3 linked regions of the Homo sapiens genome follow. The protein of the gene in region 2 interacts with the protein of the main gene of each other region in a pairwise test. Each region holds a gene or a part of one and is shown on either strand. Other genes may lie near its edges.

What was found.
Region 1: the proteins of PPFIBP1 (region 2) and PPFIA2 interact in a two-hybrid assay, tested with the Homo sapiens proteins (one study listed by BioGRID).
Region 3: the proteins of PPFIBP1 (region 2) and PPFIA3 interact in a two-hybrid assay, tested with the Homo sapiens proteins (one study listed by BioGRID).

The regions. Positions count from the first base shown.
Region 1 is NC_000012.12:81,757,964-81,761,713, reverse strand, and holds the start of PPFIA2 (liprin-alpha-2), read left to right. Parts: upstream 1-2,363; 5' UTR 2,364-2,434; intron 2,435-3,058; exon of another isoform or gene 3,059-3,206; 5' UTR 3,207-3,314; intron 3,315-3,750. UniProt on the Homo sapiens protein: Alters PTPRF cellular localization and induces PTPRF clustering. May regulate the disassembly of focal adhesions.
Region 2 is NC_000012.12:27,681,156-27,684,905, reverse strand, and holds part of PPFIBP1 (liprin-beta-1), read right to left. Parts: intron 3,361-3,750; coding exon 3,210-3,360; intron 2,520-3,209; coding exon 2,408-2,519; intron 2,292-2,407; coding exon 2,203-2,291; intron 1-2,202. UniProt on the Homo sapiens protein: May regulate the disassembly of focal adhesions. Did not bind receptor-like tyrosine phosphatases type 2A.
Region 3 is NC_000019.10:49,136,527-49,140,276, forward strand, and holds part of PPFIA3 (liprin-alpha-3), read left to right. Parts: intron 1-197; coding exon 198-385; intron 386-1,678; coding exon 1,679-1,901; intron 1,902-3,141; coding exon 3,142-3,305; intron 3,306-3,434; coding exon 3,435-3,562; intron 3,563-3,750. UniProt on the Homo sapiens protein: May regulate the disassembly of focal adhesions. May localize receptor-like tyrosine phosphatases type 2A at specific sites on the plasma membrane, possibly regulating their interaction with the extracellular environment and their association with substrates.

The sequences.
Region 1 (3,750 bases), about 54 Mb from region 2:
TTGACTATTCAGGAGACAAGCATATCTCATCTTAATAATTCATTGGGCATCAAAAACAGTAGAGTCAGATTTATATTAGTATGGGGGATGTTTTTTCTTTGAATAAAAAATATTTCCCTGTTCTTTTTTTTTTTTTTTTTTTTTGCTCTGTGCTTCTTTTGTTCCCAAATTTCTCCAGATGTATCTACACAGTGTTTCTCAGAGTGGGATCCCTGACCTAGCAATATTAGTACCACCTGGGAACTTAATAGGCACGTAATGAATCAGATGTAATGAATCAGAAACTCGAAGGATAGGGCCCAGCAATCTGTGTTGTAACAAGCCCTTCTGGAGTGTCTCTTGTATGCTAAATTTAAGGGCCTAAACTAGAGAAACTGGTGCAGGTGGTAACTCTTCTCATGTGAATCGGCTCACCTAATGCCTCATGCAAAATTGCTACTTTAAACAGTCTTTCTCAGTTTTAATATATTATTTACACTCTTTGCAGTGAAGTTAGCAGTGATAATGTCAAGTTTTTCAGCTGAAATTTACTATGAAGACTGTATCTTCTTAACAAAATATCCTTTAACTCGTGATATTTTTTTCTGCCTCCCATTATCAAAGTTTTTCTTTCTGCGATACCTACCATGGGTTAGCCTTTAACTATGCTGTGTCAACTGTATGTGGGGATTATACTTACAATTAAAACTTGTATTTGACATACGAATGGGACTCAAGGAAATCAAAACTCTTCTTGGAAACAGTAGGAACATCTGAGCCAGTAATTAACAAACGTTGATTGCCAAGGAAATTCAAACCAAGGTTTAATAAGGAAGGAATTCTTGTAAAAATAGACATAATAGCTATATGTAAAAATAAGAATATCTCTCATGTATAAGGAATTTTTATGTTTTGTGTAGAATTCTAGAGAGTGAAAGTTATGAGTACTGATATATGATTAGTATGTTGAAGCTATTACAATATGAAGTTTGTCTGAAAATAGACTAGGCTATCCTGTGAGGTGAAGAGTTTCCTGTAGTTAGGGGTATTTAAGCCACATCAAATTGTGGGTCGATTGGGTGGTCTAGACCCTTCCTCCTCAAGTGTAGTACCATCTGGGAGTCATTAGAAGGGTAGAATTTCAGGTTTCACCCCATTCCTGGTGAATCAGTATCTACAACTTAACAAGATCCATGGATGATCTGTATGCACATTATGTCTGAGAAATAGTGCTCCAGTTGACATCTAATGAATTTTCGTATTATTTTTATACTTCTTATAGGATTGTGTTGTGTTGTAAAATTTAAATAACAGTCTAGAATAGAAGTTGGGTAAATACATGAGCTTTACCCCACTTTCCATTGTAAAGTCGCTAACTGAATTAAATACTTCCCTCAGAAACAAAGATTGTTTCTTGGATATTGTAGTTAATTTTAAGTGAACAGTTATTTACATACTAGTTCTTTGTTAACTTTGGACTCTTGGCGTTACACAAAAGTAAAACACGTCTTTTGGCTTTCGTGTAGCACACTCAGAATATTTTCAGTAACCCCCAAAATATATTCAGTGTTTAATCCTCCAATTCCTTCATGCATGTCCTCTTCATTTTCACCAAACCCAGCAGGATTCGTGACTCTCCCTCACAGAAACGTTCCCTTTCTGCTCAGAGTAGGTACTGATTTTGTCTCCTGCTTCCTCAGTCTGTATGAATGGACAGCAGCAACGGAAAGAAAAGAGGGTAGGTAAAGGGAGGTGGAGATATAAGGGGGACTGGAGCGCGATGGAGAGACCAGACTCTGCTCAAAGCTAAAATTTACTCGGGCAGGGAATACTTAACATACAATTCCCATTACCAAAACAATATGAATGAAGAAGAACTGAAGAGGTAATGAGAAATGACAGATGCCGCCACACCCTAGATTGGCTCAGGTCCCTACAACCATGACTACCATGCCCTGGCCCAGTGGGAAGAAAGCTGCTTAAAGAAATGACAAGCACAGAAGACCGGGGAGCCAAAAGGTGCCCAAGTCCGTTCCCATCCCCACCAGCGCAGGCTGACACAAGCGAAGGCTGTAGAGCCCATTGTGTGAAAGAAGCCCAGGCGGGGAAGCGTGTGCCCCCTTCCCACTTTGCCCATCCCTGGCCCTCGCCTTCGCAGGGGGCACTGGGAGCAGAGCGAGCCTCGGCAGCCCGGGAGCGGCTCTGGGGGAGACGAGTGTATCCGCGGGCGCGTGTGCGTGAGGAGGAGAGCAAAGACGTGATTACTTCAGAATTTATTTAAGGGCCGGTGGAAACCACTGCAGCAGCTTCCAGGGGAAGCCCTTGTTCCAGAGGAAGAGGAGGTGGTGGCTGCCAAGGAGGAGGAGGGGAGGAGACGGAGGAGGAGGAGTAGCAGCCACCGCACGAGGCAAGTGAGGAGAGAAGATGCTGTAGCGTCCTCACCGGCTGCCAGCAGGTTGGTTCTTCCGGCCAATTGAAGCAAGCAAAGAGGCTTGCAGAAAGGCCGGGAGGAGAAAAATGGGTGTGTGTGCTGTGGCGGCGGGGGGGCGGCGGGGGGGAGGGAAGGGGGGCCGGGGGACGGCGTGGGGTGATGTTTGCCTTTCCAGAGAAAAAGCGCCTCCTTTAAGTGAAACGAGACACGGGAGCGCGCGGAAACAGGCTGGGGGCCAGGAGGAGACCTGTCCTGCTTTTTGCATCCCTAGGGACTCGTTTTCCTTTAGGTTTCTAACTCCCAGGGTTAGCCTTAAACTCCAGAGGGGCTCCAGGAGGGGAGACTGGGTGGAGAACTTCTCTCCCAGATACTTCTCACGCCTTTTCTCCAAGCTTTCTTTTGGAGGGACGCCCCACACACCCCGGGTGGCCCGGGCGCGGAGGGGGAGCGGCGCCGCGTGGTTAAGTTTCTGAAAGTCAAACCCAGTCCCCGGTCTCCGGTCTCCGCCCCGGGGCTCCAGCTGCACGCGGGGAGCTGCGGCTGTTCTGGCAAAGGGGCCGCGGCTGCTTTAAGAGCCGCCTCCCCCTCTCCTCCTTTGACAATGGTCTGAACCGAGCTTTGCTTCCCAAAGCAAAATTTGTAATATGCCATTTTTCCGATGGACGCTTCTCCTTTTGGCTGCTGACGGAGCCACGGGAAGATGCCGAGCTCCTGCCACGCCACCGGGCCGGGGCACGTTCCGGGAGGGCGCCGGGGCACGCGTGTGTCTGAGCTGCCTTTCTCCTCCCGTTGCTAGGGAAATGGTCCAGGAGTGCTGGGTGTGAGCCTCCCTTCTCCTCAAGCCGGAGACTGCGGTTGTCATTGATCAATTGAAGAAGCAAGGACCCGAAATCACAGACATTAGGTACAGAAGCTGTCTTTGAGTTTTACTGTCTCCTTTCGCTGTATTTTTTGACCACCTCCCCGGCCCCACCCCGCCCCCAGGGAAGATGAGATGCAAATTCCTCCTTGTTGATTACCGTTAGGTGCCTTTTGCTTTCACCTCATCCTCTCCATCTCCTATCTCTCTACCTCCTGCCTACTTGGCTGTGTCCTGTTGGGCAGGATGAACAATTTTAGTGTGGAAATGATGAAGTCAACTTCTTCAAGGTGGTGGGGGGTGTGGCTGAGAGATAACTGTCCAGTAGTGTGGGTTGAGCTGGCTCTGGCTGTCCGTAAATGCACTAGGGTAAAGAAAGTGTAAAATGTGTCCATTAAAGGTGATAATCATATTTCCCGAGGACAGAGGCTTTCAAAGAGTTAAATAGGAGGGAGAATATTCATGTAATGTAATCAGACAA
Region 2 (3,750 bases):
TTTGATGAATGTAATCATGATTACGTAAGATGTTAACGTTAGAGGAAGCTGAGTGAAAGGTATACAGAATTCTAGCTTTGGCAACTCCTCTGTAAATCTAAAATTATCTTAAAATAAAAAGTTTTAAAAACTTTTTAATATATATTATACACACTATAATAATATTAGTAATATTAACTAAAAGGGTTATTGAGAATCCAGTATTAATATGAGCAAAATGCTTAAAAGGATGTTTGACACATAGCAAATGTGCAACATACTACACATATTAGTATTATTTCACGCAGGTTTATGTGATGTGCTCATCAAGGTAAGGGGCTTGGGTTCAATGACAGAGAAGAAAAATCCATGAACTGAACTCCAAATTTTTTTGACATTGAGAAATGCCTACTTAAGTTGGCTGTTTAAAACTTGCTACTTACTTGAAAAAGATTATACTTAGGGTAGTTAGGTCTATAGCCTACTTCACAAAAAGCTGTTTAAATAAAAGAATTTTAGGCCGGGCACAGTGGCTCACGCCTGTAATCCCAGCACTTTGGGAGGCCGAGGCAGGTGGATCTCCTGAGGTCAGAAGTTCCAGACCAGCCTGGCCAACATGGCGAAACTCCATCTCCACCAAAAACACAAAAATTAGCCAGGAGCAGTGGTGTGCACCTGTAATCCCAGCTACTCGGGTGGCTGAGGCAGGAGAATCACTTGAACCTGGGAGGTGGAGGTTGCCATGAGCCAAGATTGTGCCACTGCGCTCCAGCCTGGGCAGCAGAGTGAGACTCTGTCTCCAAAATAAATAAATAAATAAAAGAATTTTAAGTAGAACAAGGCCAGGCTCGGTGGCTCACGCCTGTAATCCCAGCACTTTGGGAGGCCAAGGTGGGTGGATAACGAGGTCAGGAGATCGAGACCATCCTGGCTAACATGGTGAAACCCCGTCTCTATTAAAAATACAAAAAATTAGCCAGGCATGGTGGCAGGTGCCTGTAGTCCCAGCTACTTGGGAGGCTGAGGCAGGAGAATGGCATGAACCCAGGAGAGGGAGGTTGCAGTGAGCCGAGATCGCACCACTGCACTCCAGCCTGGGCGACAGAGCGAGACTCCGTCTCAAAATAAAATAAAATAAAATAAAAATAAAAATAAAAATAAATAAATAAAGAGAATTTTAAGTAGAACATTAATAGTGGTATGGAACCTAAAACAAAGTTCTCCTGGAATCCATCTTTCTCACTGCTGTAAAGCAGGGAATAGTCCTACACATTGGCTGGAGGGCTAGAAATGTACAATAATGAAGGAACCAGAGTAGAAGTCTAGCCTTCCTCCCTCCTCCTTTAACCCCAGTAACTCCTGCTGTAGCAGAACTAGGCTGAAGTGAGACGGGTGATAGGGTTTCAGGTAACAGTTGTCCAGAGTGGAAAGGAGAAGACAAGTCCTTGAAGATGTCAGGTCAAAAGGGTGGCCTCTTCCAAATGGTCATTGCACATAGAAACCCATAACTTAGAGATAGCTTGGGCTTAAAAATTCTACATTCTATTTAAAAAATATCTTTAGGCTGGGCGTGTTGACTCATGCCTATAATTCCAGCACTTTGGGAGGCCGAGGCAGGCAGGTCGCTTGAGGTCAGGAGTTTGAGACCAGCTGGCCAACATGGCGAAACTCCGTCTCTACTAAAAATACAAAAAAATTAGCTGGGTATGGTGGCGTGAGCCTGTAATCCCAGCTACTCGGGAGGCTGAGGCAGGAGAATGGCTTGAACCTGGGAGGTAGAGGTTACAGTGAGCTGAGATCACGTCATTGCACTCCAGCCTGGGTGACAGAGCGAGACTCCATCTCAAAAGAAATAATACAAAAAAAATCTTTATGAGATATAATTTGCATACCATAAAATGTACCCATTCAAAGTGTACACTTCAGTGTTTACTTTGTTGAATGTATTACATATAAAATCAACCTTCTGGAGAGCTTAGTTTAAATTAGGCTTCACTTAGCTTACATTGGGGTTTCAAATTATCCCAAGCCTGTTCAATCACAATCACCAAATGCTACAACTTCAGCCTCATGGGAAATATGCCTGCCACTCTCCTCAAGTTCAAGCAACAGCTTCAAACTCTGGTGGAATCACTGAAAACACTGTGTTTGGCTTACTCAATTCCTGTGTTTTTCAGAGAAAAAAAGTTTTCCTCCCCCAAACCCCAGGAGTGAGTCACTTACAACAGTCATGTAATGTAGCATTCGACCATCAACCCGTCCTTCATCAAACTGGGTCTTATATTGAGGGAGGCCAATGTCATCCAACCATCCTAAAAGAGAGAGGCCAGTGTTGCTACCATGCCACAAAACATCTGTTCTTGTGATTAAAAAGAAAAAGCAACTATGTATATAATTATTTCATTTTGTTAGAATAAAAACTTCTTACTAGTGACCCAGTTGAAATCCAGCTTCCCATGATTGGTTTCTTCTTCAGATCCCAGGGCTTGGAGTGCTAGCTGGAGTTTCTTTCGATGAAGTGAATGCTTGATTCCAAGTTCCTGAAACAATAAACATTGACTTTATAATTCTATCTGTATAGGCTGGGTGCCACTGGCAAAGGATGCAAATTTCTCCAAAATGAAGCTAGCATTAAAGACCCAATTCAATACTGAATTACAATCCCAACTTGGGCTAGTAAAGTGTTGTTGAACAAAAGGTCCCTGAAAAGCCAAGACCACCACAATTATCTTAGGGGTGTGTTAGGCATTCCCTAGTGACTCATTTTCTTTGTAAGCTAGGAACTGTAGCATGCATAAAAAGAATTTGACTCTTATTTTGTACAAAATATTAAATAATTTGGAAGAAATGTTAAATAATTAGACACAAATTGTAGGGTGCTTTTTTTTTTTCTTTTGCAAAGTGAAGTTAATTGCATATCTTACACTGAGAAAAACAGGCCAATGATAAAGCCAAACAATGATTTCGAGAAATATGAACTGAATTATGCTTATGTAATTCTTTTTCATTAAAATGCCCAATGGCTTAAGTGTTCCATAAGGAATCATCAAGACCAGGTCCTCCCAAGACCACCAGAAAAAAGAAGCATGAAGCAATTGAAAACCCAAACTTTTGTTTACAGAGTTTTTACTGGCTTCACTCATGGCCCTTTCTGGACTATAAAACAACCCTACATTCATACTGTTTTCTTCTCAGTATCCATTGTGTGAACAAAACAGAGAAGCAGTCACCTTCTCTAGATCTTGTTGAGAAGCCTGCAAAAGCGTTTGGCCAGATGCAATCCAGTGCTTGCCAGAATTCAGGTACGAGCCCAAGCCCTGTTCCATCAGCCAATTGCAAACCTGCTCCTTGGTCCACTTGGCAAATGGCATATCCAAGTCACTACAGGAAAATGAGTAATTGCATGAAAAATAATCCAAAGCCAATCCTGTGGCTTATCATTAGTTTTAAACAACTATACATTCAATAGACATGGAAATTCCCTGGTGATACACATTTGACCATGAAAAGCTTAATTTTTAGTATACATTGGAGGAACAACTGGTTGAAAGTTATCTTCTAAGACCACTGTCTTCATTTCAAATGAAACCACAAAAGATTTAACGTGATAGAGCAAGAACAAGTGCTACAGAAAAAGACCAAATTGGACAAACACAAGTCACTGTATCAGTTTTAACCAATGTTGTTTGAAGATTGGATTCCCAAACAGGAAACTCAGTTGGACTGAAAGAAACTTAAGTCTAATTTGAACTAACTTTAGCAGAATTATGG
Region 3 (3,750 bases), on a different chromosome or scaffold from region 2:
CGAGATTGCGCCACTGCACTCCAGCCTGGGCGACAGAATGAGACTCTGTCTCAAGAAAAAATAAATAAAATAAAAAAAATAAAGCTGGGCTGGGAAAAGCATCAGTGAGGTCGGGCAAGTCAGGATCATGAGCCAAGACCCAGCGCCAACCTCGGCCCCCAGCCACCTAATGTCCCTCTGTCCCCACACAGGGATAGGATTGGGAGCGGTCTGCCCCTGCGGGCTCCATACCACCCCCATTCCCTGGGGAACTGGACGGCTCCGATGAGGAGGAGGCAGAGGGGATGTTTGGGGCCGAGCTGCTGTCCCCCAGTGGGCAGGCTGACGTGCAGACGCTGGCCATCATGCTTCAGGAGCAGCTGGAGGCCATCAACAAGGAGATCAAGTGAGCCCTGGCCCCGCCCCGGCCTGCCCTGCCCTGCCGGAGCTGACTCCACAGCCCTTCTGGCTCTGGAGGCCTGAAAGCCTGAGTCCGTCTCCTCTTACACCATCCACAAGGAATTCTTCCAGCCCAACACTCACTCCGCTGTCCAGGCATCCCCTAGGATACACTCAGAAGTCTTCTATGTGCTACCTACACATATACCCCCCAGCCAGTACTCACCATTCCCCAACACACCAAAGCCTGCATCCCCAAATAGCCCAGTTCCTCTTGATGCATCAAGAATCTTCCATTACGCCATCGATTTTGTGGTTTCACATAACCAGTGCCCAGAGTCTCCCACTACCCTAGGAATCTCAAGACAACACAAGGTTCCCAACCTCAAACACCAAGAATCTCATCCTAACATGCTAATCAAAAACTTCAACTCCAGGCTGGGCACAGTGGCTCACGCCTGTAATCCCAGCACTTTGGGAGGCTGAGGCCAGCGGATCATGAGGTCATGAGGTCAGGAGATAGAGACCATCCTGGCTAACATGGTGAAAACCTGTCTCTACTAAAAATGCAAAAAATTAGCCAGGCATGGTGGCAGGCGCCCGTAGTCCCAGCTACTCAGGAGGCTGAGGCAGGAGAATGGCATGAACCCGGGAGGCGGAGCTTGCAGTGAGCCGAGATAGTGCCATGCACTCCAGCCTGGGCTACAGAGCGAGACTCCGTGTCAAAAAAAAAAAAAAAAAAAAAAAAAAAAAAGTCCCCAACTTATTAAGAAGCCCCCAGTGATGTAAAGTCTACCCTGATTCACCAGCAATGGCCATATTCAGCAATTCTCTTATAATGTACTCCCCATGAGCCTTCGGCAAATATACCATGACCACCACTTTCCATACCAAATGAGTCCATGCCCTTCCCAGATCCTAGATTGGCCTGAGTCCCTGATCTCACAATGCTCCTATTATGACCTTGCTCTTACAGGCCACCTTGAACTTGACCTTTTGTCCATAGTAATCCCTTCATGATTTTCCAAACCCCTTGACTATCATCAGGGCCACCCTGATACAAACCCCAATCACCTTGATAGCCCTAATCCTGCAATGACTTCCTGAGACTCTCAGGACCCCTTGACTCTCCTTGAGCCTGGAAGGCCTTCAGAAACCCACCAAAGTCCTCTGACGTCATTGCACCGTCCCCAGAATTCCCATTGCCCCACCAGGCCTTTCTGGCCCATTGTGCTCCCAGATTCCCTCTCCCGCTGTCTGCTGCGGCCCCTCACCCAGTTTCCCCTATTTCCCTCCTCAGGCTGATCCAAGAGGAGAAGGAGACAACAGAACAGAGGGCAGAGGAGCTGGAGAGTCGGGTGTCCAGCTCTGGCTTGGACTCGTTGGGCCGCTACCGCAGCAGCTGCTCCCTGCCCCCCTCCCTCACCACCTCTACCCTTGCCAGCCCCTCCCCTCCCAGCTCTGGCCACTCAACACCCCGCCTGGCACCCCCTAGCCCTGCCCGTGAGGGCACCGACAAGGCTGTGAGTGCTCTGAAGTCTCCCCAGCCTAGTAGGGGGATGGGGAGAGGTCAGAGGCAGGGCTCCCCAGTGTACAGCAACAATAACCCCTCACACCAGTGGTTTTCCAAAGCAACCTCAGCTTTCCCTAAAGGTTCAAACTCAAAGGGCAAAGGGGAGGCTGAGTCACTGGGATCTTGAACCCTAACTTTCACTTTAGTCAGATCTGGTCTACTTTTATTTCTCATGCGTCAAGTTTCTGCATAGGATTTTAAAAAGTTTCTGGCTGGGTGCGGTGGCTCACGCCTGTAATCCCAGCACTTCGGGAGGCCAAGGTGGGCAGATCACTTGAGGTCAGGAGTTCGAGACCCACCTGGCCAACATGGTGAAACCCCCACCTCTACTAAAAATACAAAAATTAGCCTGGCCTGGTGGCACGTGCCTGTAATTCCAGTTACTCGGGAGGCTGATGCAGGAGAATCAATTGAACCCAAGAGGCAGAGTTTGCAGTGAGTTGAAATTGTGCCACTGCACTCCAACCTGGGAGACAGAGTGAAACTGTGTCTCAAAAAAAAAAAAAGTTTCTGTGACAACATGCATTGGAGAACTACAAATTAGATCCTCAGAATTGACCTTTGAGGGAGACAAAGAGATATTGGCCCTATTTTACTCCCTTAAATTCAGCTTTCCTGCTTCCAGAACCTGTAACTCATTAGCTTTCTTTGAGGCCTGACCAACATGGTGAAACCCCATCTCTACTAAAAATACAAAATTATCCGTGTATGGTGGTGTGGGCCTGTAGTCCCAGCTTCTTGGGAGGCTGAGGCTAAAGAATCACTTAAACCCGGGAGGCAGAGGTTGCAGTGAGCTGAGATCATGCCACTGCACTCCAGCCTGGCGACAGAGCTAGACTCTGTCTCAAAAAAAAAAAAAAAATTACCCGGGCATGGTGGCACATGCCTTTAATCTCAGCTACTTGGGAGGCTGAGGCAGGAGAATCTCTTGAACCTGGGAGGCAGAGGTTGCAGTGAGCCGAGATTGTGCCATTGCACTCCAGCCTGGGCCACAAGAGTGAAACTCCATCTCAAAAAAAAAAAAAAAAAAAAGTTTCTGCAACTCACCCTGACTTGAGCTAGACTACCTTCGTATACTGTGTTCTAAACCAGGGTCACCCCACACACACCTTAGTAGACATCTCAGTTAATAAGGAGCCCCCGACATGACTCTTTGAACTCAATCCAGCATCTGTGCCCTCTGTCCTCAGAATCATGTCCCTAAGGAGGAAGCTGGAGCTCCACGAGGGGAGGGGCCGGCCATCCCAGGAGACACCCCACCACCCACTCCCCGCTCTGCCCGTCTTGAGAGAATGACCCAGGCCTTGGCACTGCAGGCGGGGTCCCTGGAAGATGGGGGACCCCCACGGGGAAGGTCAGCAGGGACAAGGGATAGGGACAGGGAGAAGCTGGCTTGGGAAGATGAGAAGGGGGTGGACAAGGACTTGGGAGGAGAGGGGGCATCTCAGCAAGCATATGCTCTCATTCTCTCCTGCTTTCCCAGTGAGGGCACCCCAGATTCTCTGCACAAAGCCCCCAAGAAGAAGAGCATCAAGTCATCCATAGGCCGTCTCTTTGGCAAGAAAGAGAAGGGACGAATGGGACCCCCAGGCCGGGACAGCTCTTCTCTGGGTGAGTACCTCACTCTAACCCTTCCCTCCTTTGTTCCTTCCTCCCTTCCTCCCTCCCTTTCTTTCTTCTTTGTATGTTCATTTGACATCCATTCATGTCTTCATTCATTTGGTGATTTATTTAGAATTTGGAAGGAACACAGCTTGCCAAGGTAGGCGGGAGGAGGAGGGAAAAGGAAAGGGCACTCT